Linked DNA regions of Homo sapiens: all the other regions are linked to region 3. Evidence: fine-mapped expression QTL. A gene starts in region 3. Each other region holds a variant in brackets. All regions are shown on one strand. Distances are from middle to middle. Region 1 overlaps SYNGR1 (synaptogyrin 1). Region 2 holds the start of MGAT3-AS1 (MGAT3 antisense RNA 1). Region 3 holds the start of MGAT3 (beta-1,4-mannosyl-glycoprotein 4-beta-N-acetylglucosaminyltransferase).

Region 1 (10,061 bases), 72 kb after region 3:
GTCGGCTCCTCTCGCTGAGCAGCGGCCTCAGGGTCGGCCTTCAGGGTAGCTCGGGCTCCTTGGGTTGCAGGCAGCCCCTGCCCTCCGCACTCCTAAACGGGGTCAGAACCTGGGTGTCCTGGAACGGAGCCCCGGGATCCCTCACCCGCCCCGCCGCGCTCCTTCCCTCGGCACCCGCTACTCCTCGGACCTCTTGCAGACTCCGCTCGCCCCCGATGACCGCAATCCGATTGGCTTAGCATCTCTCTCGCCCGCCCCTCTCCCGGGCGTGGGCAGGGCCAGTACCTTGACCGACGGGCCATGCCCAGGCCACGCCCACTTGCTCCTCCCACCCGGCCTGGGCTCCAGAGCCTTTTCTGGTGGGATTTTTTTTTTTTTTTTTTTTTTTTTGAGACAGAGTCTCTCTCTGTCGCAGGCTGGAGTGTAGTTGTGCGATCTCAGCTCACTGCAACCTCTTCCTCCTGGGTTCAAGCGATTCTTCTGCCTCGGCCTCCCAAGTAGCTGGGACTACAGGCGCCCACCACCACACCCGGCTAATTTTTGCTTTTTTTTTTTTTTTTTTTTGGAAACAGAGTTTCGCTCTTGTTGCCCAGTCTGGAGTGCAATGGCGCCATCTTGGCTCACCACAACCTCCACCTCCCTGGTTCAAGCTATTCTCCTGCCTCAGCCTCCTGAGTAGCTGGGATTACAGGCATGCACCACCACGCCCGGCTAATTTTTGTATTTTTAGTAGAGACAGGGTTTCTCCATGTTGGTCAGGCTGGTCTCGAACTCCCGACCTCAGGTGATCCGCCTGCCTCGGCCTCCCAAAGTGCTGGGATTATAGACGTGAGCCACCACACCCGGCCTAATTTTTGTATTTTTTTAGTAGAGACGGGGTTTCACCATGTTGGCCAGGCTGGTCTCAAATTCCTGACCTCAAGTGATCCTCCTGCCTCGGCCTCCCAAAGTGTTAAGATTATAGGCGTGAGCCACCGTGCCCGGCCTCGGTTCATTTGCAGATCTGTGCCTTCTTCAAATACATCTGGACTTCTCCATTCTCTCACGGTCATGGTGACCTGTCTCTTGACTACCATCTAACCAGCAGAGTGGTCTTTTGAGAGCATGCACTGTTGTGGTCACCCACCCTTCATGGCTTTACAGAGGCCTCCAGGCCCTACACTGTGGGATCCATGAGCACCTTCTGGCCTGTCCTTCCTCATTCTCCTCTCTCTCCCTTCTGTGCGTCCACTGCACCTGCCTTCCACCACTTCCAAGCTCTTTCCCAGCCGGGGACCCCTGAGTCCTGGGTCCTCCCTGCAGAACTCACCAGCTTGGATAACTCACCAGCCCACCCGCTCACGTCCAAACCCTGCTCATGGAGAGCGCTTGAGTCGAGGGTCACCTGCTCGACCGGTGGTGGTTGATTTAGTCAGGGTGATCTAAATTGCATCGCATATTCTTTCCAACCCACTCCAGCACTTAGCACAGTTGATATTTTTGCTTGCATGTTTAGTTAACAGCATTTCCCCCACTGCGTGATCATCTCCAAGAGGGCACTGTCTACCTCCTTTGGTGTTGAACTCCTAGCGCCTAGCAAGTTTCTGGTACTTTACAGGCTCTGGGTAAATTTTTTGCCGGCTCGGGGCAACTATATTTAATTTTTTTTTTTTGAGACGGAGTCTCACTCCGTCGCCAGGCTGGAGTGCAGTGGCGTGATCTTGGCTCACTGCAACCTCTGCCTCTCGAGTTCAAGCGATTCTCCTGCCTCAGCCTCCAGAGTAGCTGGGACTAGAGGTGCTGGCCACCACACCCAGCTAATTTTTTTTTTTTTTTTTTTTTTTAGATGGAGTTTTGCTCTTGTTGCTCAGGCCTGGAGTGCAATGGCATGATCTTGGCTCACTATAACCTCCACCTCCTGGATTCAAGCAATTCTCCTGGCTCAGCCTCCCGAGTAGCTGGGATCACAGGCACGTGCCACCACGCCTGGCTAATTTTGTATTTTTAGTAGAGACGAGGTTTCTCCATTTTGGTCAGGCTGTTCTCAAACTCCCGACCTCAGGTGATCTGCCCACCTCAGCCTCCCAAAGTGCTGGGATTACAGGTGTGAGTCACCACGCCCAGCCACGCCCAGCTAATTTTGTCTTTTTAGTAGAGACGGAGTTTTACCATGTTGGCCAGGATGGTCTCAGTCTCTTGACCTCGTGATCCGCCCGCCTAGGCTGCCCAAAGTGCTAGGATTATAGGTGTGAGCCACTGTGCCCAGGTTTTTTGTTTTGTTTTGTTTAGACACGGGGTCTCACTATGTTGACCAGGCTGGTCTTGAACTCCTGGGCTCAAGCAATCCTTCCACCTTGACTTCCCAAAGTGCTGGGATTACAGGCATGAGCCATGGCACCCAGCTGAAGGCCAGTCAATTTAAAAACCATGTCTTGTAAAACATGTGTATGTAAAAGCATGGAAATGGTCTGGAAGGAATGAGGCCAAGCATCTAATCTTGTTTACTCCTGGTGGTTGGGGAAGGAACCAGGATAGGAAATGGTGATGGGGCATGTATGTGGACATGTGCACATGTAAGCTAAGAGACTCTGGCTTCAACTGTAATAATTTTCCTTTTTTTTTTTAGATGGATTTTTGCTCTTGATGCCAAGGCTGGAGTGCAATGGCACAATCTTGGCTCACTGCAACCTCTGCCTCCCCGGTTCAAGTGATTCTCCTGTCTCAGCCTCCCGAGTAGCTGGGATTACAGGCGTCTGCCACCACACCCGGCTAATTTTTTTTTTTTTTTGTATTTTTAGTAGAGACAGGTTTTCACCATGTCGGTCAGGCTGGTCTCGAACTCCTAACCTCAGGTGATCCACCCACCTTGGCCTCCCAAAGTGTTGGGATTACAGGCATGAGCCACTGCAGTCGGCCAATTTTACTTTTTAAAAAGATAATATATTCATAGGTTCATTGTGTAATGAAAAATTAACAAACAATAATAACCAAGTAAGACATGGCCTGTCTAAGGAGACAAACGGGATGGAGCATCCAAGCCAAACGCAGAATGAAGAACAAAGAAACACGGTGACACACTTGCAATCGCTGGTGGGTTCTGAGTCTTCACTTTATTACTATGTCACCAGAAGTCACCACCTTCACTTGGTTCACCACAGATGGATGGATGTCATAAAGGAGGGTGCCACGGGGCCACTGGATTCACTCGAGACTTAACCAGGTGGTGGGGGGGTCTAGAGTGGGGGCCCAGGATGGGGACCGCCCTTCACCGCACACACACGCACACACACACACAGATATATTTGTGGAGCCTTATATTATACATCTTATATATAGAAAATATATATATTTATACTATACACAGGCAGTAACGCTGCGGGAGGGGCCGGGGCACCGACAAGGGCTGTGCGCACCAGGACATGGGGAGTGTCAGGTCAAGTGCATCGCTGGGAGGCAGCCGGCCCAGTCCCTTCTCCCATAAACTCCTGGGAGGGGCATTCCCCCTTTCGTGCTCCTTAGAGAATCAAAGGGGTCTTGGGCCAAGGTTAGGGGTCTCCCAGGGCTAACAGGCAGGGTGTCTCAGTTACATGGGGAAACCTGGGATCCCCGAGGCTTTGAAGATCAAGAATCACCAGGGAAGGATGGAGTAGGGAACTAACGTCAGTCCCCTGGGAATTAGCCCCTCAACTGCGACACCCCCAGGTGGATAGGAGCCGTGCAGGCAGGACAGTCTGTGACTGCCCAGGATGAGCCAACTCAGAAGGCAGAAGACCTGACTCCTGAACCTCTCCCTCTGTGCTTGACCTTGGACAAGTCGCTGTCTCCCTACCCCAGACTCTGCCGACTCTAAGCGTCCTTGCGACTCTACACTTATGTGAAACCTTTTTTCCTGGGCCCTCTCTTGTGCTTGATGGGGAGGAGGGAGCCACCCTGCAGGGTCCAGCTGCAGGAGGGCCCTTCTCCAAGGAAAGCTTTGGGAGCAAGGGAGAAGTAGGGGAGGGCAGCTGGGAGGAAAAGGGATACCGGACAGAGTTGGGCCTGGGGTTCCCCAGGGGCTGTCCTCTGCCAACAGAAGGAGCGAGTTTCCCCATGAACCTTCCAGGGCAGAGTCAGGAGCCCTGGGTCCCATCCAAATCTCGCCCTCCATCTCTCACCCTCTCTCATCTCCATCCTGGGCAGGTCCCTGCCAGAGCCCAGCCTGATGGGGAAGATCATGCCTGGAAGGGCTTCTGGGCTGAACCCGGGAAGAGTGAGGGATTCTTCGTGAGATGACTCAGCACCCCCCATTCCTGGCAGGAGTCTTGACAGCTTTCCCTGCCTAGGGTGGCAGGCAGGGCCTGTCACAAACACCCAAGATGGAGTTAAGCTTACCTGGTACCCTGCCCTCCGGCTGAGGATCACCAGCAGCTGGCTGGCACCCGAGGAGAAACAGATGGGCAGTACCCTGAGGTCTCCTAGTGCCCATCAGCAGGAGAGGCTTTTGGTGGACAGTGGGTGAGGGTCAGAACATCTCACAGCCTCTTGTGGTGGGCACAGAACTTCACTCTGCCATAAACACTCCTGCCCTCACTCAC[G/A]CCCTCACCTTTGGCCTGGTACAGGTTTCACTCTTCAGGCCAACAGATAACCTGCCCCCATGCTGGTCCCATGTGGGCCACCTGGCGGCGGGGGACTGTGGACAGAGCCCCTTCTCCGGATTGGAAAATGAAGTCAGCAACAACCAGCTGTCACACAGCTGGCTGGGGTCCTCTCCATCACTGCTGTCCTTTGGGAGGACTTGGACACACCTGAGTTTAGATCCGTGTTCCACTGCCAACTCGCCTATGCTTGCCGAGCCTCAGTTTCCCTTCTGTTAAATGGGGATAATGGTGCTACTTCTCTGCTTAGGACTTCCTCCTCTTTCCCTTAACTCTGGCCCAGCTTTGGGGCCATCGAAGCAGGGACCACCCATGCCCTTGGTATCTCCAGCACAGGGGCCGGGTAACTGCTGAGTGAGTAAGCAGGTGAGGGATCGCCTGCCTCTTAGGATTCTTAGATGGGGGATGGGGGGATGGTGGTGAAAACACCCAGCACTGGGCCCGTCCACCACCTGCTCTGCTCTGCTCCCTGAAGGACAGGCCAGTGGACACTGGGTGGACAGGGGGATGGGCCCCCAGCGCTCTCCCATACCTCCCTGTCCCTTATGGCTCAGTGAAGAGCCCACCTTGTGCAAGAATCGACCTGCCCCCACTCAGAAGAGATTATGACCTCCTCAGGCCCCACGGCCCTCTTTGGGCCTTTGGGTCACCTGCCACACTCTCCCCTACAGCCCATGGTCTTCCCTGGGCCTCCCATGCCTCAGGGGCTCTTGCCTGTGTCATCCTGGGGGCAGTGTCTCTCCACGGCCACAGCCCAGGAGCCGACCTGGCTGATTCCAAAGCCCTGTCCTTGCCGCTCTGCCTCCCATAGGGAGGCTGGCTCCACAGTGGGCCTTCTGGAAGGCCAAGGAAACACCTCTCATGCGCTTGGCTGCTGCAGCCCCCGAACCCTGACTGACCCCAGATGAGAGGAGAGGTGACATAGTGTCCCAGATCAGTTCTGTTTCCTGGGAGGTCACAAGGGCAGGGAATCGAGGCACCTGCTGGGCAGCTGGGGCCAAGAAACCCAGGCGTCAGGGCCAGCTTTGCCACTCACTCACCGTGACCTCGGGCCAGTCACACCCTCATCTGTGCCTTGTTGTCCACCCAGCCCTAGGTAAGGGCTTAGTGACCCCTCCTAGAGGCAAGGACAGTGATCAGTCCTTTGAGAGACCACGAAGGGGTTTGCTGGAGCCCCCTGGAACAAGCGTCTGTGGGACACGCAGAGCACAGAGCAGCACCCGGGGTGAGCCCTCTTGGAGGAGGCCAAGGGCCAGGGGTAGGACCAGGGGGATGTGGGTGGAGGGACCCGGAGGTGGGGCTGTCCCCAGGGGAGGAGGAACAGCTGGGGCAGAACAGGCCCTTGGCATGCAGCAGAATCAGGGTGTCTCAAGGGGCTGAGGGCCCCAAGGCCTCCCAGAATGACAGTAACACTGAGCAGGGAAGCCCCAAGCGTGGGGATGGTAGGAGGTGGGTGGCCAGGGAAGAGCACGTGGTCTGCAGTCGGGCAGCCTGGGCTTGGCCCCACCTCTATCACTAGCTGCCTGAGTGATTCTGGGCAAGTAATCTTGACCTCTCTAGACCTCAGTTTCCTCAACCATAAAATGGAGACGGCCCTGACACTCTTAGCAGGACTGCCAGAGCAGGGTGACAGCCCCCAGTGTCCTGTGGGTGTTTACACTCACCCTATGACCAAGCCACGGTGTAGCCACACTTCCCAGCATTATCTGGATCTGTCTTTCCCACCATTCTGGCCTCTGGTACCACCAGGGCTTCCTCCACAGCTCATCGCTCCCCTTTCCAGTGGCCATTTCTGCCAATGTCACCACCCATGCCCAGCACAGGCCGGATGCCCAGTAGGCGCTCAAGGAATGCTTGATGACACAATGTATGAATGCAAATACCCCTGGCCCCCACCCTCTAGGCCCCTGCGGGGCACATGCCCTGGGATATACTTGCACATACGTAGACAGTCCCCAACACTGGACTGCCCCACCCCTGCCCCGAGCTACCCTGGACCTCAGTGGGACAAGGCAGAGGCTGATGAGGCGCTGGGCAGGGCAGCCTGGGCAGGAGCAGGGGCTGGGTGTGGAGAGAGGGGACAGATGGGGAGGGGCGGGGGCAGGCGGTCACTGTGGCTCAGTAGCCCTGCGACTGGTAGCCCTGGGGCTCGGTGTCGAAGGTGTTGGCCGGCTGCTGGTAGGTGCCGCCCATACCGGCGGGATCCGGCCCAGTGGGCTCCACGTAGGGCGCGTAAGGCATGCTGGAGTCCTGGCTGGGGTCCATGTAGTCCTGGGAGAAGAGGGCCGAGTCGGCGCCAATCTGGTACCGCTGGAAGGCCAGCACAGCCTGGCCCGCCTGGGGACAAAGGCCGGCGAGGACAAGGACAGGCGGGAGGGGGTGGTTAGGGGAGAGACAGACAAGAGCACTGGGTTAGTGGTGGTTAGTTCACAGGACACAGGCAGGAGAGGGTTAAAGATCCTCAAAGCACCAAACATGAGACCAAGCTTGGCTGTGGAGAAGGAAGGCTGTTCTCGCAGCCACCCCCGGAAATGCCCAGAACCATATCATCCAGCCAGAAAGTACCCCAGAAATCACCTGCCCCTGTCTCCCAATCCCAGAGGTCAGTCTGGGCTACCAAAAGTTCTAGATCTCCATTATGGAGTGTTAAGATGGCTCAAAGGCTCACAACAGCCTTCTTAAAAAAAGCTTCTCAGCGGGACAAAGGACTGTTAGCATCTCCTAAGAGTCATTCTTTTGTCTCTCTTGCAGCTAGGCATGGCCATGTGACTACGTTTTGGCCAATGGGGTACCCTCATGTTCTCTGTCCCACCCTCTGACCTGATGCCTGGAACACAGATGTGATGGCTGGAGCTCTAATTGCCAAAAGGGACCACAAAGACCATGAGCCAAGTCTGTAGGAATGAAAGATGCCTGGGGGCCATGCACCGCGGCTCATGCCTGTAATCCCACAACTTTGATAGGCCAAGGTGGAAGGATTGCTTGAGGCCAGGAGATCAAGACCAGCCTGGGCTAAAATATGCACCTCTGGCATATTGACTATGTTGAGTTAAAGGCACTTGAAAAACAGCAGGCACAATAACAATCTGATCTTCTTCTTGAAAGCAGGAGAGGCCAGGCGCGACAACTCATGCTTGCAATCCCAGCACTTTGAGAGGCCAAGATGGGCAGATTACTTGAGGTCAGGAGTTTGAGACCAGCCTGGCCAACATGGTGAAACCCCATCTCTACTGAAAATTAAAAAAATTAGCTGGGCATGGTGGCATCACCTGTAATCCCAGCTACTCGGGAGGTGCAAGCAGGAGAATCGCTTGAACCCAGGAGGCGGAGGTTGCAGTACCCTGAGACAGCGCCACTGCACTCTAGCCTGGGCAACAAAGTGAGACTGTCTCAAAAAAAAAAAAAAAAAAAAAAAAGGCCAGCTTGGGCAACATAGCAAGACCCCATCTCTACCAAAAAAATCCACAAAAACCAAATTAGCCGGGCATAGTGGTACTGGCCTGTAGTCCCAGCTACTCAGGAGGCTGAGGTGGGAGGATTGCCTGAGCCTATGGGTTTGAGGCTGCAGTGAGCTATGATCCAGCCTGGGCAACAGAGTGAGACCCTGTCTCTAAAAAAAAGGAAAGATGCCTGGGTCACCGAAGACCTCTGGAGCCAGTATGCCAGCCCTGGACCACTTCCACAGCCTTGGACTTTGTTGAAATCACTGTTATCTGGGATTTCGGTCACCTGCTGCTGAACCTAATTCTAAGTGAGAAACTGAGTTAAATAGAGTGAAACAAGTTTCAGGATCATCTGACTTGGCAGAGCCCTGACTATTCAATGTGACCGCGCCTAGCCTGAAGCCGCCCCGTTTTTTTTTTTTTTTTCACAGATCTCAGATTGGGAAAGACTTGTCTACAGCACACATGCATGGTTAGGAAATTATTTTTCAATAAAAGCAATTACATTGTTATTAAGGACAATGACACTGACCACACTGAGCTAAGTCAAAGTTTAAGTAAATCAAACTTGTCATTAGAAAAGCAGCTTAGAGGTTTATTGCAAAAGCCTTCTCCAGAAACTTTCCCGGCCCGGGGAATCTGCCTGTGATGGGAATGTGCTGATACTCTCCAGACCCCTGTTTTAGGGCTGGGAAGATTGAGGCCTAGAAAAGGAAGTGCCCGTGGCAGAGTTACTGCTAGAACCCTTCCCTAAACATGGGGTCCTACCCCTTCCCAGGTCAGGGCGCCCTCACCTCCTTCCCTTTCACTGGCCCCTGACGAGGCACTAAGTCAACCAACAACCTAAAGAGCCACTTAGTGAAGAGGTAGAGAGTGAATATACCTAGCGTTTTATTCCACAAAGTTCCAGAAACCCAGTGACTGGGCATTTCCTTTTTTTTTTTCTTTTTTTTTTTGAGACAGAGTCTCGCTCTGTCACCCAGGATGGGGTGCAATGACACAACCTTGGCTCACTGCAACATCTGCCTCCTGGGTTCAAGTGATTCTCCTGCCTCAGCCTCCCAAGTAGCTGGGATTACAGGTACCCGCCACCACACCAAGCTAATTTTTGTATTTTTAGTAGAGACGGGGTTTTGCCATGTTGGCCAGGCTGGTCTCAAACTCCTGACCTCAGGTGATCCGCCTGCCTTGGCCTCCCAAAGTGCTGGGATCACAGGCATGAGCCACCATGCCCAGCTAGGGCATTACCTTTTGATTGTACTCATTGACCAAAGTTCTGAGGGGAAGCACTTTCTGGGAGGTGGGTATTTAAAGCAAAGTGCCAGCACCTTGGGAAAGGCAGACTAGGTCTAAAGAAATTGGGCTAAGGGATAAGGTGTAGCCCTCTGGGGTTTCCCACTATGTTAGCATGAGGTCCTGGCTGCTGGGGGCTCAGACGCCGGAGCCTGAAGAAGCAGGGGAGGTGAAGAGCCCCCTGAGGGTACACTTGAGCCCTGGCCAGCCCACAGGAACTGACTGAATGAACCTTGAGAGCAATGTCTGTAGACGCGGTTCTCCCCGAGCTCCCTGGCTCTACTATCCAGGCTGGTTTCCTGTACAGAGGCAGAGGGCTGGAGCAGATGACCCCTACTGATCCTTCTAGGGAGATGCCTCTGGCTGTAGGCACTCATACTGTCTCTGTGTTCAGCTCTCTGCCCTCACTAAGTCAAAGCTTCATTTGGGCAACCAGTTTAAGGGGCCACAAGACAGGAGCAAAGGAGAGGCCTGGGCCCCCGCTGGCCTGGGCTGCAGAGGGAGGATGGGAGTTCTACTGAGAGCCCAGGGACCTGGTGGTCCCCTGGCCCCACTTTCTCAGTGTAGGTGCTCTCTCTGCAGCATCTCCAGCGTGCAGCAGGCAGTCTGCATCTGCACTGGGATGCCTCCAGTGCCAGGAAGCTCACTCTCGATGTGCTCAGGCCCTCGCAGGGTTGAGGCATTGCTTTGGGGGAACTGTCTGTGCTCCACC
Region 2 (10,061 bases), 23 kb before region 3:
TGGATTCCAGCCCTTGTCTGGCAAAGTGAGACCAGTTGGGCTGGACCAGCTGGGTGAGCAAAAGGGGCTAGGAGTGCTGTGGCCAGGACCAGACACAAGGCAATACTGCAGCCGGGGTTAGCATGGCGGAAGCTTCCAGAGCAACCTACTCTTGGGGTTTCAGGACTTGGAAAGGCAGCCTGGATCCTTCTGGTGGGCTATTTTTCTTTTCTTTTTTTTTTTAATTTTTTAATTTTTTTGAGACGGAGTTTTGCTCTTGTTGCCCAGGCTGGAGTGCAATGGTGCGATCTCAGCTCACCACAACCTCTGCCTCAAGCAATTCTCCCGCCTTAGCCTCCTGAGTAGCTGGGACTACAGACATGCACCACTACACCGGCTAATTTTGTATCTTTAGTAGAGGTGGGGTTTCACCATGTTGGTCAGGCTCGTCTCGAACTCCTGACCTCAGGTGATCTGCCCGCCTTGGCCTCCCAGAGTGCTGGGATTACAGGTGTGGGCCACTGTGCCTAGCCTTAGTGGGCTATTTTTCTGTACTTGGGACCTGCCTCTGAGGGGGACACTCTAAGTTACACAACTGGTGTAAGCTATGTGGCAGGCATGGCCTGGGGCTGCCATTCAGACTCTAAATCCCCTGGCAGCATGAACAAAGGCTTTAGCAAAGCAAGGTAAGAGGAACTCAGAGAGGCAAGGAAACAGCCTGCTTGGCGTAAAGGGCCTCCGTGGACCTGCTGAGGTCAGATTGACCCAGCTGCCCCTTGGCTGGCTTTCAGGATCTAGTTACTCATAGCCAGCTGTGCCCTTCTGAGCACGGACTCACCAGTGCTTGGGAGCTCCCCTCTCAGTCACTGGAGCCTTCAGGACAGGGCCCCTTAATAAGGCCTCAGTCTGGGTTGCTGCTGAGAATCAAGGATCTGGGCATGTTTCCCTCATCACTCAGGCTGCTAGGAGGCTCAGAAGCACACAGTGGTCAGCCAGAGCATGTCAACAGCACCTCACAGACAGCATTTTCTTGGACTCCTTCACTTGCAGCTGCCCGCATAGTTTCAATCCTTTTCAGCTCAATTCCTTTTTGTCTTTTCATTTTTTTATTGAGACAGCATATAAATAAAATGGAATAAATAAGCACTGGCACTCAGGGTCTCATTTAAATCTCACAGGCACTCTGGTAGGTTATTTAAACTGCCCTGTTTTAACAGATGGAGAAAACGAGACTCAGAAAGATGGCAAGACTTTCCCCAAAGGACATCATTAAGGAGGTGGCTGAGTCAGGACTTGAACGTAAGTTCTGGTTCTCAAGCCAGTGCCTCTCTCCCTCATGACAGCTGAGACCACCAGATCCCTCTGTAGTGCAGGTGGCCCAGCTGTGGGCTAAAGCCATGGAACCAAACTGGGCCCCAGTTGGTGGCATTTCAGCTTCCATTACAAAGCTTCATCAAAGCTGGGCACAGTGGCTCATGCCTCTGGAATCTCTGCACTTTGGGAGGCCAAGGTGGGCAGATTGCTTGAGTCCGGGAGTTCAAGACCAGCTTGGGCAACATGGCTAAACCCCGTCTCTACAAAAAAAAAAAAAAAAAAAATTAGCAGTGCCTACTTTCTAGCAGTGCCAGGCATGCAGAACTACTATGTGCCTGTAGTTCTAGCTACTTGGGAAGCTGAGGTGGGAAGACTGCTTGAGCCCTGCAGGTCAAGGCTGCAGTGAGCTGAGAGATCGCAATTCTGCACTCCAGCCTGGGCAGGGGAGTGAGACTCTTATCTCAAAAGCAAAAATAACAAAGCATTGACAAACCATCAGGTGTAACAGTAAAACTATCACTGAGGCTGACATGCCAGACACTGTCCTAAGCTTGTTACACACGTGACTGTACTGAATCCTCCCAACACGAAGCAGGTACCCTTGTATAAGGAAACCGAGGCCAGGGAGATGATGTCGCTTGCACAGCATTGCACAATAGAAGGATCATACTGGATCCTATAGGGTCAATCACGGGGTTGTATCCAGTGGTAAAGCTGTCCTGAGCCCCTTCCAGCTGCCAAGTTCAACCCAAGTAGAGTGACAGAGCCCCTGAGGAGTCCACCTGTGACCAGTGAAGACAACCCAGTGGATGGTGCAGCCCTGGGGCATTTGATCCATACAACATGCCACAGGGTGCTCACCCAACCCACGTCACTCATTCACTCAGCAACGATTTTGCCAGAGCCCCGTGTGCCAGGCACCTCGGTGGGTACTGGGAACATGGGGAGACAGGACGGACCAAAATCCCTGCCCTCAGGGAACCTGCTCAGCACCCAACAGGGTAGGGAGCCTGCGTAAACTACAAACACACTAGTCAGCTCAGAAAACTGCGCGCCCAAAGAGGCTGTGCTCTGGAGAAAGACAAAGCGGGTAACGGGCAGGAGCGAGTGCGTCATTATGTCCAGTGATGAATGGAGTGGGCAGGGCAGGCTCACCGAGGAGGCGACGTGAGCAGACTCCACGCAGGAGAGGGCGCCAGGGAAGAATGTTCCAGGCAGAAGGCACAACCAGTGCCCTGGCAGGAGTGTATGTGCGCCAGTGAAGAACAGCAAGGCGGGTGGGACGGAGCAAGTGAGGGGACATGGGGGGCAGGGAACAAACCCAGATCACAGGGCCTGGAGGCATGGTTCGAAGTGTGGCTTTCACTGGAGGATTCAGAGAAGGGAGGCCATGGCCTGACCTTGGTGTGAATGGCTCACTTTGGCTGCTCTGCTGAGAATGAATGGGCACTTCAAGGGCAGGGCAGGGGAAGCCAGGAGGCCACACTGAACTGCCCAGGTGAGTCAGGGTGGCTTCCACCAGGTTGTAGGGTGTAGAGTGTGCTCAGATTCTGCTGGATTTGCTGAAGAGCTGGATGTGAGCAAGGCAGCACACTGGGTGGCCCCAGGCACTGGAAGAATGGACCAGCCCTTGACTGGGGTGGAGGAGGCTGGCCCTATCTGGCAGACCTGGGGCTTGCAGCCAGCATCTGTCTCTGCAGGGCCTAGCCCTAACCACTACTTCTCCTCCTGCAGACACCAACAGTGAGGCTGGGCGTGAAGGACATGGCCAAGGTCAAACACTGGCTAGCAGCAGGTCCTGGGCTAACCTTTGTCTCTAGATCCAAACCTCAGGTCCTCTCTGCAGCATGCTGTCTAGAAGCTTCACCTGAGGGATGGGCGGGGTGGGATATGCTTTGTCTGTGGTCCCCCTGTGGCCTCAAAGCACTGTGGGGGACATCGTCCAGCCCACTGTCCCACTCCCACCTACTTCCCTGGATGTACGTGGCTTGAGGTCCTCCAGCAGCTCAGGAAGCCAGGAGGGTCACTGTGGTTAGGACCTACCTGGGGAATAAGGTTAACTGAGCGAGGGCTTAGGGCCTTCCCTGGGCTGGGCGCCCTCTGTGACCCAGGCAGGCAGCTCTCTGAGGACAAAACCCCTCTCCAGCTCCTTCCCACCACCAAGGCTAATCTCTGTTAGCACAAATGCCATACTCTGGCTCTTACTCAGTTCGTTAAAATTCACCTAGTATTTCTCAGATGCCTGCTCTGTGCCAAGATAGCCTCCCTGGAGCCAAAGCACCTGCCTCTGCCCCAAGCCAGAGCCCATCCCGAACTCTCCCAACCTCCCCCAGCTCCTCATCATCATCAATGTTCCTATAGTCACTATGAACAGAGCAGGTCACCTGACCTCTCTCAGCCTCAACTCCTCCATGTATAAAATGGGTATCATTATCTCTGCCCTGCTTATTTCAAGTAAGAATCAGAGAGAACTATGCACGGCCCCAGCCCCAGTCAACACTAGGCTCATTTTCCCCTAGATGTCTGTCTTCCCAGCTGGCATATAAGCTCCCTAGAGCAGGGAATGTACACAGCAGGTGCTCAATGAGATCACCCCGCACTGCCCTGGGCCTCCACAATGCCCTCACCATCACTTCCATGTGCTCGGACTCCCCAGTTCAAATCCCAGCTCTGCCACTCCTATCTGTGTGGCCTTGTGCAGGTTAAGCACTTTTCTGTACCTCTGTTTTCCCATCGATGAGATGCCTAGCACACAGTAAGCACTCAATGATAAGTGCTAGCTCTTCTATTATTATTCCCCAGCCTGGCAGAGAAGAGAAAGAGTGAGCCTTTGGGTGGGGACACACCAGAAGCAGAGGCTTGGAGGTGAGTCCCTGGCAGGGCCTAAGCCTAGGTGGGTGCTGTCCTATCTCAGGGCAACAGGGAGCAAAACCTAAACCTGCTGTGGGGAGGGGCCAGGGGCTGGGAAGCCACGCCTCCTGAGACTCCAAGAAAAGGGGGGCTTGAGGCTCCACCCCCACCCCGCTGCCAGACACCCCGTAAGTTGTGCCCAGCCCCAGGGGCCTGTGACTTTTTAAATTTTTTTAGACAGGGTTTTGTCTTTCTTTGTTACCCAGGCAGGCTGGAGTACAGTGGGGTGGTCAAGGTTCACTGCAGCCACAAACTCCTGGGTTCAAGTGATCCTCCCACCTCAGCCTCCTAAGTAGCTGGGACTACAGGTGTGTGCCACCACTCGGCTGATTTTTTAAACATTTTTTTGTAGAGAGGAGGTCTCCCTACATTGCCAAGCTGGTCTCGACCTCCTGGGCTCAAGTGATACCTCGGCCCCCCAGTGTTGGGATTGCAAGCGTGGGCCACCGCCTCTGGCCGGTCCTGGGTCTGTTGGGATAGGTGGTAGAGCATGGGCCAGGTGCTTCCTGGCAGCCAGGTGATCCTGGAAGAGGGAGGCTGAGGCTGACCCAGGATGGCAGCAGGCAGGCCTCAGGCAGTGGCCATGGCCTGGAGGGTCTGAGCTGGACAGATTTCCTTCTTTCCCTCCCTCTTCCCACTTCTTGTGCCATTTTTCTCTAGCTCTGCTTGGAAGCCTGACGGGCTGTGAGGGAGGGAAGCTGATGAGCCCAAACTCCATGACCCAGCCATGACCTCATAGTCAGGACTCAGGTGGAGCCCAGCCAGGGGCTTCTGGCCAGGGAGAAGGGAGGTGCTCTCTGGAGGCCACTGGCTGTGATGGTGGGAGCTGGCCAGGCAGGTAGCAGCCTCCCAGGTGCAGACTCACACTGACAGCTGTCGCTTGGTGAAGGGCGGCTCCTGTGGAGCTCTCCGTGGTCCTGAGCTTGCCCGTGCTGGCCAGAGTCCTAGCTCAGTCCCCAGGGTGCCCTTGGCTGGCCTCACCCTGGCCCCTGCCACCCACCTCCGTGGTTCAGACGGCTCATGTCTTAACAGCCGGTTCCCCTGTCCACCACCCTCTGGCCCCTTCTCCGCCTGCCCCTCAACACCTGATGTCTGGCGTCTTCAGCTGGGGGACAGCCACTGGGCACTCCTCCAACTGGGAGAAGGGGCCAGCTGTCACATGTCCAGCAGTAAAGCAGGCCCAACACCCAGTGGGCACTCAGGGCATCCCTGTAATGTCCATGAGGGGCATTTTGGAGGATGCCAGAAACAACCTCAGTCTCTACTTCTGGGCAGGAAGTAGCCCATCCACTGCCCCCAGCCCTGGTACACCTTGGGGTGGACCCGCACTACCTCTCCAGGAGTTAGTTCAACTGTACGAAAGGGCTTCGCGCTGAAGCCCGTCTCCCTGTGCTCACCTTCCACCCGGCCTGGTCCTGCCCCATGTGACCTAAGGGCTCTGCCACCTCCAAAAAGAAGGCAGGAGGCACATCTTTGCAGCAATCCCTGCCATGTACAGCAGCTCCTGGGGCACAAGGTAGGCCAGTGGCCACAATGGCCAGATCCGAACACTGCTTGTGGCCTTGGCAAGTCACTCTGCCTCCCCGTGCCTCAGTTTCCCCCTCCACGATACGGAGGTATAACCGTTTCTGTCTCACAGGGTTGTTGTGAGAGTTGAGTGAGTTAATCCCCGCAAAAAGCTAGGGACCATGCCTAAGCACACAACAGATGCTCAGGACACGCCGGCTCCACTGTTACTGGAAGTCTGGAGGATTTGGTTTGAATCCCAGTGCCATGACTTACTTGCTGTGTGCCCTTTGGCAAGTTACTTAGCTTCTCTGGTCCTCAGTCTTCTCCGATCTAAAAGAAAGATGTCACCCTCTGTTTTGCAGTCCTGTGGGAGACCTGGCTGAGCCACGGTGTCAAAGCATTCTGCATGGAGCCTGGCCATTGGCAGAGGTTCTATAAATGCATGGTTTTTTTTTTTTTTCTTTCCTTCCATTTGGGTTTCCCGCTGGACGACCAAATACAGATGACCCCCTGAATATGCCAGGCCTTGCTCCTGACCGGCTTTATT[T/A]CCTTTAAGAAAGGTAACAAAGACACCTTTGTTAAGGTACAAAAGGAGGTGGGCCAATTGCGGGGCTGCTTCACCCTGACTGGCACCCTCAGCCTGTAGGGCCTTTCTCAGTAACTCACCAGGCATTCAGGACCTAGGCCAGAATCTGCGGAATCCGGCCCAGCCGAGGCCTGCAGACTCCTCTCCTGGGTCCAGAGGGCCTGCAAGTAAGAATTTGGTCCAAGGCTTCACCCCAGGCCAGTGCCTCTGCATGTCCACTCCCACGGGCCGCCCATTCCAATCCCTTTGGGCTGCTAGAAGTTCTTCCTTCTGTTGACCTTCATCAGTTTCCCTGGAGCTTCTGCTACTGGTTCCTTCCCTGGGGTATGGCAGAGGGAGTCGGCATCTCAGGAGTCAGAAGACAGTGAGCACCTCCCCGGACTCTGAAACTAAATGCAGCTTGAGGTTTCAGGATCCCACATGGGGAGACAGGTAGAGGCGGTGGCTGCAGAACATGGCCGATCCTGGAGTCCCGGCGAGACTGAAGAAACAACTGCTGCTCTGCTGTCCTCCCCTCTCATCATCTGACTCACTCCTTTGACTGACAACCATCCACAGGGACGCCTACACAAAGTGGTCACTCTGCAGTCGACGTATCATCCCAGCTACTGGTGGTCATCGGGGACGCAGATATGTGTGTCTCCATTTTGCAGATGAGGACATGGAGGCCTCAAGAGGTTAAGTGACTTGCTCAGCCACACACAGCTGATGGGAATGAAACAGACGGAAACGGAGACTCCCCAAGCTGACAGGCGGACTACAGATCTGGGGGTTCTGCTCCAGGCTCAACACAAGTGGCCTGGGCGAGGGAGGGCCTGGTAGACCATGACACCCAGCATCGAGGAATTCTGCTTCCCCAGCAGGCTCAGAAGGAAGAAGTCTGCTTCAGGGGCCAGGCCTGGTCAAAGACTCCATCTTCCCTGGATGGCCAGAGTCAAATCCTTGCAAATCCCGTTCACCATGGAGCAGGTGAGACAGCTTCTGCTGTGCCCACCCATGGATGAAGAAACTAGGCCAACAGAGGAGAGACAGAGCTACAAGGGGAGCAGTTCTTAGATTAGGCAGGCAGGGTTCAGGAAAGACAGGGTGCCCAGGCCACCAGAATACCCACGAGAGTCTGGGCCTCATGGAGTCAGCCCCACTCTCTGCTGGCTCAGCTCCAGGGTGGAGGCCTTGCCAAAGGCTCAGCCCAAGACCCATCCCAAGAGCCCTTTCCATGGCAACCCCACCCCTCCCCCACCTCCAGTCCCTGTGCACCACTCTCTCCCCTCCAAACCCATCCCCATCAGCTGATCCCAGCTCCCTGCAGGCTGCCTGAGGACTTTCCCACGGAGTGGCCGGCAAGTGCCTGGGAAAGTTGGTTCCCAAAGCTGGGATCTACCCCTGCTAGGACTCCACCCCTCCTGCACTGGTCACTGGTCCATTCAGGACATCAGCTCCTCATCCCCAGAGGCTCATTCCATAATGTTTTTGTTTTTGTTTTTTAGAGACGAGACCTATGTTACCCAGGCTGTATGTGAATTCCTGGACTCAAGCAATCCTCCCATCTCAGCCTCGTGAGTAGTTGGGACAAGTCTCACACCACCATACCCAGCTTAATTTAATTTGAATTTTAATAGCTGCATGCTCTAGTGGTTCCTACGTTAGACTGTGCAGTTTAGACTGAACGGAGAGGGCAGGAGGCAGGGAGTCAACCGGGTCCATCGTGCCAGCACCGCTGGAGAGATGGGGCTGCACTGAGGGAGGACCCTCATGGGGACAGTCACAGAGCTGGAGCAAGGGAGCATCCCAGGGCGCCAAGCCTGAGAGACGGCCCGTGATGAAGGGGAGGGCCAGGGGCGGGGCAGTGGTGAGCTGATGCCAAGGTCTTGGCTGAGAGAGGCTCATAGAGCATTGGTTAACTACAGGAGGGAGGGATGCAGCTCTGGGGGGCTGCCTGACACCAGGGTGCAGGGGCATTAGGCAGGTGATTGGCAGAAGGAGACCTCGGGAGGGGAGGTGGGCTAAAGGTGGGCCTCAGGGCCCGATACACAGATGTACAGACACATCCCATGGACTGGTCCCATGGGCACTGAGGACAGCTCTTTCCCAGCCAGGTCCCTGGAACTCCCCTCCAGGTGCCCCAGGACCTGAGAGAGAGGTGGAGTGAAGGGGGAGAGAAAACAAAGCCCAGGGACTCGCCCCCAAAAAACACAATCAAGAAGATGCTCCCAGCTTTTCAATTTCAGACACTGAGCTCCTCGCAAGATTTTGTTGGAAGGAAAGCTTCTACAGTTAAAAAAAAAAAAAAAAAAAAAAGCCTGGCAAGCCCTGCTGTGAATTCATCCCTCACTCCACACCAGCAGGGAGATGGAGGCCCTGAGGAGGGGGTGATTGGTGAAGGCCGCACCACAAGCAGAACCCAGGCCTCTCTGACTCCAGGAAGGCAGGGGCGCTGGGCTGGGGCTTTTCCATCTCGGATCCTCAGTCCCCAGTCCAGGCAGAGAGGGACCTTATCAGGGAGCAGAGGGCGGATGTCCCAGCCGGGGCTAGTGGTGCATATGCACATTTCAGGAGGGCCCGAGGGCTCTGACTGCCTCTTACACACAAAGCCTGGAATGGAGAGATGTAAACTTGGCCTGGGGGAACAGGCCAGGCCAGAAGTGAGCAGTGGCTCCTGCCCGAAGCACCCAGAGCAAATATTCAGTGAATGTTTGGGATTAGCCAGAGGAATGAGTACTGCTGGTGGCATTTCAGGCACAGGGCTCTTTATCTCTCAGGGAGAGGAAAAGGGTCCCCTCTGCAGGGCCACACATGACCACAGACCTGCTGTGTGCAGAGCCAGGAGGCAGTGGGAGCCCGTGAGGGCTGGGCCAGTGTGCAGGGAAGGTGCTTGGGGCTGTGAGAGGGTTGGGGGTGATGTGAAGACTGTAGCACTACTGGCCTCGCTTCATTCCACCCCCACAGGCACACAGGGCCTCAAACTCGCAGCTGGCAAGTGACAGCAGCAGAGTCCACACCCACCTGCGGCCTTGGGGCTTCTCAGAGTTTCAGGGGCAAAGTCCAGGCTGCTGCCTTCAGCCTTGCCCAAGGCAAGGGTCCCTCTCACCCCCACTGCCATCAGGACCCCATGGGCCTGCCATTTTCAGGTCACAGGGCTCTCCAGCTCTGGTAGATGATCGGATTCGCTGCCCAGGAAAGCTGCATCTGCCCATCCTGCCAACCTCCTAAGCCCCTCACCAGCCTGAAACCATGTGAGCACCCCGGTGGCACACTGCAAGGCCAGGCTGAAATTATGTTTCCCAGAGCCCAGAGTTCCCTGCAAGGCCAAGGGTACCCAGGGCAGCCCTTCCCACCACTACCCAACTCCAACAGGAACGGGTCACCCTGGACAGTGCGCCGTGTCTGGGTCTCCTGCAGCTTAAAGGAGGCTCAAGGTCCAAAAAGTCAGGAAAACTCCAAGGTGAGGCCCAGACTCCAGGAGGCTCCGGAGGCCCTGGATCCTGACCCACACTGCAGAACCTTGCCCTGATCTACCCTGGAGCTGGCACTCCACATCCATCTGCCCCCTGCCCACACACCTCCATCCAGGCTGCCCTCCTCATCCATCCCCCCTCCTCCCCTTAACTTCCATCCCCCCACCCCCATTATTTTCCCCTAGCCCCGATCACCCGGAACTTGGAGACAAGCAAGCGAGGGGTCCCATGCCACCTGCACCACCTCCTTGGGGAGTTTGTTTGCTGCTGTCTGCCTGATCCTGGCCTCCAGCTAGCCTGGCCTGGCC
Region 3 (10,061 bases):
GAAAGGCAGGTCCCTGGGCAGGGGGACTCAGTCAGAAAAGGAAGACATCAGGGACACGTAAACAACACATCTCGAAGGGCAGGTGGTGTAGTCTCCAAGGAGGCAGGGGTGAATCGGGAGACTCGTTCTGGAAGGGAGCAGTAAATGGCCACTGGAAACTATGCCAAGCTGTTCAAATAGTAACAGTGCACCCCACCCCCATTTTATTTATTTATCTATTTATTTTTGAGATGGAGTCTCACTCTGTTGCCCAGGCTGGAGTGCAGTGGCGCAATCTCAACTCACTGTAGCCTCTGCCTCCAGGTTCAAGCGATTCTCTCGCCTCAGCCTCCCAAGTAGCTGGAATTATAGGTGCCTGCCACCATGCCCAGCTAATTTTTGTATTTTTAGTACAGATGGGGTTTCACCATGTTGGCCAGGCTGGTCTTGAACTCCTGACCTCAGGTGATCCACCCACCTCGGCCTCCCAAACTGTTGGGATTACAGGCATGGGCCACCACGCCTCGCCTCAGCGCCATTTTAGACACAAGAAAACTGAGGCACAGAGATGCAGAGTCACCAGCCCACAGTCACACAGTGAGAGAGGCAGGGCCGGGATTTGAACCGGGCCACTAGATCTGGAATCCCTACTTTTAGTGACTCTTTCCTTGCCCCCAAGCAGCCAGCACAGGGCTAGGTGGAGCATCGGTGCCAGGGGTATCTGCTCCCCAATGGATTCTAATCTCCTCAGGGCAAGGCCTATGTCCTCTCTGTCCAGCACAGTAAATTATTACCCCTACCTGAGGACACTGTGTTCCAAGACCTGGTCCCCACATGAAGGGCTTGGAGATGGCTAAGATGAGGGGCTGCATCACTGCACTCTGGGGAGCAAAGGGGCTCTGGCTCTTGGGGAGCACAGCAGGATACCCTGAATGACTTGGCTGGGCGGGTGGGTGCCCATGAGGCCAAGAGGGGCTGTCTTTGCAGACCACCCTGCCTCTGGCCACTCCTCACTGCTTATGTAGTCTTCCCAGAATTGCATGAGGACCACGCAGTTCCCCCACCCTCAGCTCTCTGCCGTTCACGTCCAGCCCAGCCCTCTCGTGATTCTCATGGCCGCTGCCCAGTGAAGCTGGCCTGGCCCGCCAGCTGGCATCGGCATCCTCGTTTTCCAGGTAATAATACCGCAGCCAGCGATCTCTTGAGTGCTGCTCAGGTGCCAGGCACCCTGTGTGCATCCTCTCATTCAACCCTCTCTGCAACTCATTCCATTCAAAATTCTCCCCCATTTGATCACACCTGGAATCCGAGCACTTTGGGACATAGAGGCAGGAGGATCACTTGAGCCCAGGAGTTCAAGACCAGCCTGGCCAACATAGCAAAACCTCATCTCTATTAAAAACTTTTTAAAAAATTAGCAGGGTGTGTTGGCTCACGCCTGTAGTCCTAGCTACCCAGGAGGTTGGGGCAGAAGGATCCCTTGAGCCCAGGAGGTTGGGGCTGCTGTGACCTATGATCACACCACTGCACTCCAGCTTGGATCACAGAGTGAGACCCTGTCTCAAAACAAAAACAAAAACAAAACCTCCCCATTTCACAGATGTGGAAACCGAGGCTCAGAAAGCTGACTTCCTGAGGTGGTCCAGTTACTACAGAAAAAGAAATCATCAGGGTTGGGCGAGGTGGCTCACGCCTGTAATCCCAGCACTTTAGGAGGCCAAGGTGGGTGGATCACTTGAGGTCAGGAGTTCGAGACCAGCCTGGCCAACCTGGTGAAACCCCATCTCTACTAAAAATACAAAAATTAGCCGGGTGTGGTGTCGGGCACCTGTGGTCCCAGCTACTCGGGAGGCCGAGGTGGGACAATTGCTTGAACCCAGGAGGTAGAGGTTGCAGTGAGCCAGGATGGCACCACTGCACTCCAGCCTGGGCGACAGAGTGAGGCTCCATCTCAAAAAAAAAAAAAAAAAAAGAAAAGAAAAGAAAAGAAAAAGGAATCACCAGTGTGCCTCAAGTAGCCCTGACCACACCAAGGGCACCAGGCAGACCCTTAGAATGGGTCTGAGCCAGCGGCATCCCCCCAGCCAGGTCTTGGCTCCCTGCCGTCCTCAGGACCAAGTGCCAGCTCCCTGCTGTGCCCTCCCACCTCACCTCCACCTGGCCTCCCTGCCCAGCCTCTGCCCCGTTTTCATCTCACTTCTTCCAGGGGGCACCCACAGTGCCTGACTGTTCCCACTGCCACCTCTCAACACACGCCAGACACTCACACCTCTGAGCCTTTGCTCATGCCATTCCCTTGGCCCACAACGCCCTTCCCACCTTTCTCTACCCAGAGATCTCTGGCAGCTTCCTGTCGTCATCTCTTCCAGTAACCTCTCTCTTCCTCCTGGGCTGGGACCCCTCTTTCAAACCTTCCTAGGACCCAGAGCGGCTCCCCTTAGCACTCCTTAGACTGAAAACCCCCTCAGAGCTGCAGCTCCTGGGGGTGGGGGCTCTCCCCTCCATCCTTCTGCTGGGCTCCATGTCTGGATCTTTCATAACTGCTCCCCCTCCCCAAACGACACGCCAGTGCTCACAACTCCCCCATCAAGGCGAATCTGGACTGGTGTGTCCCAGGAATGAAGTGGGGAACCAGGGAGGAATCCCACTGGGGTAGTGTGTCTGCCCACACCCCATCAGGGGCCTTCAGGGGCATCTTCCGGGGCTGGGGGTCATCCGACCTCAGACCACTAGGTCTGGCCGCGCGGCATCCCTTCCTGCTGCACCCCAGCTCAGGAACCCCACCATACACACACCCAGGCGCACTCCCCTCCCCACTCCCGGTTCCAGAACTCACTATTTGCAGATATTTATAGCGCCCTCCCTCAGCCAGGTTCCCTCCCCCGCCCTGGGCAGAGCAATGCAAGGAGCCGGGGGCCCCCACCCCGGTAAATGGCCGGGGGCCCTCTCCACATTTGCCTCTGCCTGGTCCCCAGGGGTAGCTACGGCCGCAGCCCCCGCACCCGCCCAGCCCCCGACTGCGCTTGGGCCTCGGCTGCCGCCGCCGCAGTCTGGGGTCGGGGGTGGGGAAGGCGGGCGCGGAGGCCTCCCACCCCAGCCCCGCGCCGCGCCGGAGGTTGTGGGGGAGCCGCGCCGGAGGCTGGGGGGTGCCGCGCACAAAGCACGGCTCGAGCCCCGCGCCTCGGGGACGTCCCCCGCCCGGCCGTGGGAGGGGGTCGGGCGCTGAGGCTCTGCCCTCCGGGGACCGGGGAGCTCGGAGGAGCGGCGGGTAGGGGGAGGGGGCCCGCGCCGAGCGGCTTCCCCGGCATCCCGCCCCCACCGCGGCCTCCGGGCCCCCAGCCCCAGTGCGCCCGCGCCCGCCCCCTAAGGTCACGCTCGGGGAGTGGGCCGCGGAGCCGGGCGGGGGGCGCCAAGCGCAGCGCGGGAGGGCGGGCAGCGCGGGGATAGAGGGGCCGCGGCGCCCCCCAGGACGCCGGGGTCAACTCACCCATCGCCCGCTGGGTCTCAGCAACGGCGGCAGCAGCGGCGGCGGCGGCTCCGCGGCCCCCGGGGTCCCCGGCGGGGAGATGCTGGCGTCCGCCGCAGCCTCTCGCCCCATCCCGGGCTCCGGCGGCAGCGGCTGCGGCGGGCGCCCGGCATCGCAGGCAGCGCGGCCCCGGCCCGGCCCCGATCCCCTCCCCCCACCCCCACTTCCACCCCGTCCCGGGGACCCGGCGCGGCCGCTCGGCTGCACCCCGGGGCGGCGGCGGGGGCCCGGCGAGCGGACGGGCGCGGGGGAGGGACCGCGGCGGGCGCGCGGGGGGCGCGGAGGCGAGGCCGAGCGCGGCGCGCAGGGGTGCCCGCTCCCGCCGGCTCAAGCGGCTCCGGCCCCCACCCCGCCCCCTCCGCAACCCCCTCCCCTCCCCCGCCAGCCGGGCTCCGCCGCCGCGCCGGGCCGGGGGCGCCTCGCACCGCAGACTCCGGCCGCCGCCGCCCCGCGCCGCCCGCGCGTGCTGGATCGAGTGTGTGCGTGTGCGAGCGAGTGTGTGTGAGTGCGAGTGTGCGCGCGCCCCTCCTGTGACCGTGCGTGCGCCGGCCCACGGCCCGGGGCGGCCTGCGCGGGGGCGTGTGCGGGGAATGCGGGTAGTTCGGAGTGCGGGCCTGGTGTGCGTGCGGGGCAGCAAGTCCCGTTCTGTGTATGCGTGGACGGGTGCGTTCCGCAGCGTGCCCGGGTCGGTGTGACTCCGTGTGCCCGAGTCTGTGCCTGTGTGTGCATGGACGTGCAGATCCGTGTTGCGGTGTGTGCGTGGATGCGCCTGTGCCCGCGTGAACCTGGGCCGGGATTTCGCATAGGCATCTGTGACCATGTGCAGAGGCCTGGGCCTGTGATGTGTGCACGGTGCCGGGCCTGTTACGGTGTCTGCAGAGTCTGTGTGTCTGCTTGGGGCGTGGGTGACCGCTGTACACCGGCCTGTGTCCTTCCGTCCGACCCCCTCCGTCCCTCACATGCCCGAAGCCACCTGCGCACTCCTGGGGTAACTGGGGGGGCCTCCCCTCCCCCGCCCCCCTCACCCGGCCACCCTAGGCCCGGTCGGCCCTGCCAACCCTCTTGAGCCTACTCTCCTGCCACTTGCCCACCAGCGGTTCTCCGAGGGCCCACCGTGTCGTGCCCTGGCTCCTCGTGGCCTTGCTCTAGGCCATTCCTCTCAGGGCTCAGAGGCGTCCCCCACGTGTTTCCCGCCTTTCAAGTGGTTCCGTTCTGGGGCCTACAGAGCAGCCACTTCCTCCCGCGGTGCGAGGCACAAGGCATTGTGGGTACGCAGCAGACATCTCTGCGCCGCCATCGTCGAAGGTGCAGGGATGCGCTACCTATTCTATATCCCAGCGAATGTGCTCCAGAATAGTCCCAGAGGCCTTTGCTGAACCATCCGGGCTGCCTAGGGCTGGTCTACCTGCTCCAGGTGCCTCCGTGCCCAGCTTCATCCATCCTTGCTGAGGAGGCAGAGTGATCCTACTCCAACATTCACTTGAGCAGGTCACTCTCCTGCCTGCACCTTCAATGGCTCCCACTTGCCCTCAGCTTAAGTTCAGTGCCTGGGCGGGGCACAGGGAGCCCCTGGTGACCTAGTCTTGCCCCCTTCTTCAACGTCACCCTCACTGCTCTTTTCTTCCTGGAGGCTCTCTCTAAGCAAGGGTGGGCAAACCATTTGCTTTAAGAGATTGATTGTAAATCTTTTAGGCTTTGCCAGCCATATGGTCTCTGTCCCAACTACTCAACTCTGCCATCGTAGCATAAAATCAACCATAGACAATACGTAAAAGAATGAGCCTGGCGGTGTTCCAATAAAACTTTATGGACACAAAAATTTGAATTTCGTGTCATTTTCACGTGTCCAGAAACATTTTTTGATGTTTTCCCAACCATTTGAAAGTGTAAGATCCATTCCTAGTTCCTATCACTCTAAGCACATTCCATTATAACATCTCCATGGGCCGGGCATGGTGGCTCATGCCTGTAATCCCAGCACTTTGGGAGGTTGAGGCAGGTGGATCAGAAGGTCAGGAGTTCAAGACCAGCCTGACAACATGATGAAACCCCATCTCTACTAAAAATACAAAAATTAGCCGGGTGTGGTGGCACACGCCTGTAATCCCAGCTACTCGGGAGGCTGAGGCAGGAGAATTGCTTGAACCCAGGAGGCGGAGGTTGCAGTGAGCCGAGATCATGCCACTACACTCCAGCCTGGGCAACAGAGCAAGACTCCATCTCAAAAAAAAAATAAATCATCTCCATGACATGTGCTTAAGGTAATTGTCACTCCCCCAAAATCCAGTCTATTCTGCCCTGCAAAAATGTTGCCCTCCTCCTCTCCCCAGCCTGGCTGTTCAACCCTCTCTGCCCCTTCTTCTCCGGCCCCCAAAGAACCTTCAATTTCTGCTCAAATGTGTCCCCCTCCCCCAATTCCCCATGCCACAGCTCTCCCTGCCTGGGACTCATTCCCCTCTGGAAGGGACCGCCTCACAGACACTTTCCTTCCCCAGAACCTTCTCTCCCTCCCTGAGCCTTCAGCAGCAACTCTGGGCGTCCCTCAGCCCATGAAAGAAGTGCTGTTTCAAGTCTGGATTCTCCATTGAACTCGTTCTGAGCATCAAGAAAACCTTGACATTGGCCCCCAAGCACGAAGGCAGGCACAAAATAATCACATTCCTCCATTTCCATTGCTCCTGGCAAAGGGGAGGAGGACCTGCCCAAGCCCCAGCCCCTGCCCTTGAGGCCCAGTGAGAAGTAAAGACACGCCCCACTCCCCAGGGAAGCTGCCCTGCCCAGAGCTGGCCAGGGTCAGGGGACTTGCTTGCTCTCCATCTTCCCCCAGCTTGGGTCTTTGTTCTCCTGACCTTTCCAGATTCCCAAGCTTCTTGGGAGGCCGAAGTGGAGTCAGCCTTGTTGGGTTCATACCAAAGTCCGCCTCCATGTCCTCAATGCGGCACTCAGTGTGTTGGGCGCTGTGTGGCAAGTACATCTTCCCCACGCCCAGCCTGTCAGAGATAAGTAACTTGCTCGGTCACACAGCCACAGCTGGGCACACCAGGCCCCACCCTCCACCCTCCCAGCTCAGGCCCTGTGGTGCCAGAAGCCTCCCTCCCAGAGAGCTGGCCAGAAGGGTAAACATCCCCCAATTCCTTCCTCCCACATGGCCCCTGTCACTCTTTTCCCCTCCCACATTCACAGAGGCCTGGCACACAGTAGGCACGGAGGTGCTCAGCAGGTGGAGAAGCTGAATCCCAGGGAGCTTAAGACCTGGGTTCTATGCCAGCTCGCCAAGTGTTCCAGTCATTTCAATCCCTAAGCCTCAGTATCTTCATCTGCAGAATGGGACGAATCACTGCCCTGACATCGCATTGACATCAATGGAATCTGGTTCTCTCCATCCTCTCCCAGCCGTCCTCCAGGCCCCACGATGACGTGGGGGAGGCTGGGGCTCCAAGCTCCATGGTGATATGGGGGAGGGTGGTTGGTGGCCCTCTTGCCCCACTGCTCCTCTAGGGGCTGAGCTGCCTGACAAGGAGGCTGTGGGAGCTGGAGGTGGGAAAAGCCCAGATACAAGATTAGCCAATCTCAGGCGGTGTCTCCTTACAGCCCTGCTGTCCCCTTTCACCCAGGCCTTTTTGGCTCTGGGAACAATTGCTAGGTCTGTTACCCTTTCAGCAGCTGCTGCCTGGCCTGTGGGAGCCGCATTCCACCTCCCTGGGGCATCTCACTCCTGGCCCTGGGTCTCCAGGTGGGGAGGCTCCTCACCCATGCCATGAAAACCAAGCCACAGGCCAGGCGCAATGGCTCACGCCTGTAATCCCAGCACTTTGAGAGGCCAAGGTAGGCGGATTACTTGAGGCCAGGAGTTTGAGACCAGCTTGGCCAACATGGTGAAACCCCATCTCTACTAAAAATACAAAAATTAGCCGGCCGTGGTAGCACATGCCTGTAGTCCCAGCTACTGGGAAGGCTGAGGCACAAGAATCCCTTGAACTCGGGAGGTGGAGGTTGCAGCGAGCTAGGACCGCACCGCTACACTCCAGCCTGAGCAACAGAGTGAGACCCTATCAAAAAAGAAAAAGAAAAAGAAAGAAAGAAAGAAAGAGAGAACCAAGCCATCAAGCCCCAGCCCTGCCAAGGCTCCAGGTGGTCAGGGAGCATGGCGGTGCAGTGGGCAGAGTGAGCTGGCTCCGGTCGGGGCCCTCCGAGCTGCGCCAGGGCTCCACACTCAAAGCCTAGGCCCATTGGTCTGCAGAGTGGGCATAAAGGTGGCCACCTGACAGCGTGTGGGGAGGGTGAGGGAGGTGGGATGTGTGACAAGGTGGTGCTGGGCAGCACCGAAGGTGTTTGATAAAGGGTCCTTTGAGAAATTAAAATGAAATCCCAAGCCCCCCAACAGCCCCCCGTCTTGGCCAAGGGAACCCCAGAGAAACCTTGAAAGCTGAGTGCTTGGCTACAACAGAATGGGAGGTCAGACACTCCTCGATACAGCCCCTCCTGAACCCCTTCCTTAGGGAAGAAAGCCTGCTGACGGTTAGGGCTAGCCAGAAACCAGCCCTTTTGAAAGACTTCACCACTGATACCAACCAGCTGTCCGATGCTATCCCTCTTTTGCAGTTTTGACACAATAACTGACCATCATCCCTTCCTGATAAGAAACCATTGTCCAGACAGTCTAAAGTGGACGCCCAGTGAAGGTGTTCGTCAGAGATAAGTGACTTGCTCAGTCGCACACAGCCAGCCCTGGGCACAGCCGGGCACAGCCAGGCACACCAGGCCCCACCCTCCACCCTCTACCCTCCCAGCTCAGGCCCTGTGGTGCCAGGAGCCTGCCTGAGAGCTGGCCAGAAGGGGACACAGCCCCCAATTCCTTCCTCCCACATAGCCCCTGTCACTCTTTTCCCCTCCCGCATTCACAGAGGCCTGGCACACAGTAGGGTCCTGTGCTTCACCTTTTGACATCAGAGGGCTGAAAAACACCCTGCGATCACACTAACGCCACCATTTTTTTGCATGTGTGACTCACTAAGGGGCATGAAGCTTAATTGCACAGGTCCCTGTTTCTCCTTACATCAATATTCATGACTCCCCCTATAGCTTATTAAATATGTATATTCAGCCACCCTGCTCTGTATAAATTCCTGTTCCCTTTGCCCCTCCCTTGAAGCATGTGTTCCTGGCTTCTGGCTGGAAGCTATGCTTCCCAGCCTGTCAGAATGGCTGCCCTGCAGGCTGCAACCCTTTATGAGAAATAAAGCTCTCCTTTCCAAATTTGTGAAACTCATTGTTCTTCTGTTGGCGACTTCCTTCCCCAACACTGGCCAGGTGAAGTCAGATCTGTCCCCTTTCTACCCTCCCCCACATACACTCCATTCAGCTGAGCTTGTCCCATCCACTGGCAGCCCTCTGAAATGCTTGCAATTTCTCTGCCTTTTTTTTTTTTTTTTTTTTTTGAGACGGAGTCTCACTCTGTCACCACGCTGGGGTGCAATGGTGTGATCTTGGCTCACTGCAACCTCCGCCTCCCGGGTTCAAGCGATTCTTCTGACTCAGCCTCCCGAGTAGGTGGGAAGACACGTGTGCACCACAATGCCCAGCAAATTTTTTGTATTTTTAGTAGAGACAGGGTTTCACCAAGTTGGCCAGGATGGTCTTGATCTCTTTTTTTTTTTTTTTTTTCTTGAGACGGAGTCACTCTGTTGCCCAGGCTGGAGTGCAGTGGTACAATCTCGGCTCACTGCAAGCTCCGCCTCCCGGGTTCACACCATTCTCCTGCCTCAGCCTCCCAAGTAGCTGGGACTACAGGCGCCCGCCACCACACCCGGCTAATTTTTTGTATTTTTAGTAGAGACGGGGTTTCAACGGGTTAGCCAGGATGGTCTCGATCTCCTGACCTCGTGATCTGCCTGCCTTGGCCTCCCAAAGTGTGGATTACAGGTGTGAGCCACCGTGCCTGGCCGGTCTTGATCTCTTGACCTTGTGATCCACCAGCCTCGGCCTCCCAAAGTGCTGGGATTACAGGTGTGAGCCACCGCACCTGGCCAGTTCTCTGGCTTTTTAAAATCTCTGTACCTGGCATATCTGTGTTCTGCCCAAAACGCCTTTTTGGAAAAACTCCTACTCATCCTTAAAGACCCAGCCCAGGTGTCTCCTCCCCTCAAAGGCCCCTGAAGGGCTTCTGGTTTCCAGGAGCCCTGCTTGCCTCCATTTGGAGAATTCTCACCTCAAGGCCTTTACTGCTACTGGGTTCTGCCTGGAGTGCCCTTCCCAGCCCAGCCCAAAGAGCTCAGCTCAAATGCCACCTCTCCAGAGTCTCCTCTCACTCCCTTTCTTGGGACCTGAGCACTTCCTGTCTGCTATCCTGGGCTCCTCACCTGGCCTTGCTGTGAGCTCTTGGGCAACTAGGATGAGAGAAGTTTCCCCTAGCCCCTAGCTGGTGCTGGGGACAGAGGGCCCTAAGGGAGGGGCCCCTGCTGGTCCAGGTAGGGTGTCTGGGCCAAGTCTTGCTGGTCAAGCCCTCTAGGCTTGCGTGGCATTGAACAAGTCCCTTCTCTACCATCCTTACTTTCTA

Evidence for each region.
Region 1: its variant is fine-mapped to the expression of MGAT3 in whole blood (INTERVAL, PIP above 0.99).
Region 2: its variant is fine-mapped to the expression of MGAT3 in testis (GTEx, PIP above 0.99).

Annotation. Positions count from the first base shown.
Region 1 is chr22:39,378,585-39,388,645 of GRCh38, reverse strand. It overlaps SYNGR1 (synaptogyrin 1), which reads right to left. Exons shown (of 4, transcript NM_004711.5): 4 at 3,071-6,950. The coding sequence ends at 6,732. Among named protein-coding and RNA genes, the nearest start is that of TAB1, 16 kb to the left of the region's middle. RefSeq lists a silencer at 3,568-3,862. The variant G/A (reference allele first, on the strand shown) is at 4,554.
Region 2 is chr22:39,473,664-39,483,724 of GRCh38, reverse strand. The region is part of intron 1 of MGAT3 (beta-1,4-mannosyl-glycoprotein 4-beta-N-acetylglucosaminyltransferase); the gene reads right to left. It overlaps MGAT3-AS1 (MGAT3 antisense RNA 1), which reads left to right and starts at 6,903. Exons shown (of 2, transcript NR_126469.1): 1 at 6,903-7,267; 2 at 7,786-7,918. RefSeq lists enhancers at 4,778-5,279, 8,917-9,846 and a silencer at 10,012-10,061. The variant T/A (reference allele first, on the strand shown) is at 6,260.
Region 3 is chr22:39,450,963-39,461,023 of GRCh38, reverse strand. It overlaps MGAT3 (beta-1,4-mannosyl-glycoprotein 4-beta-N-acetylglucosaminyltransferase), which reads right to left and starts at 4,012. Exons shown (of 2, transcript NM_002409.5): 1 at 3,467-4,012. RefSeq lists an enhancer at 2,367-2,566, silencers at 2,887-3,016, 3,027-3,296, 4,027-4,086 and a cis regulatory region at 7,908-8,456.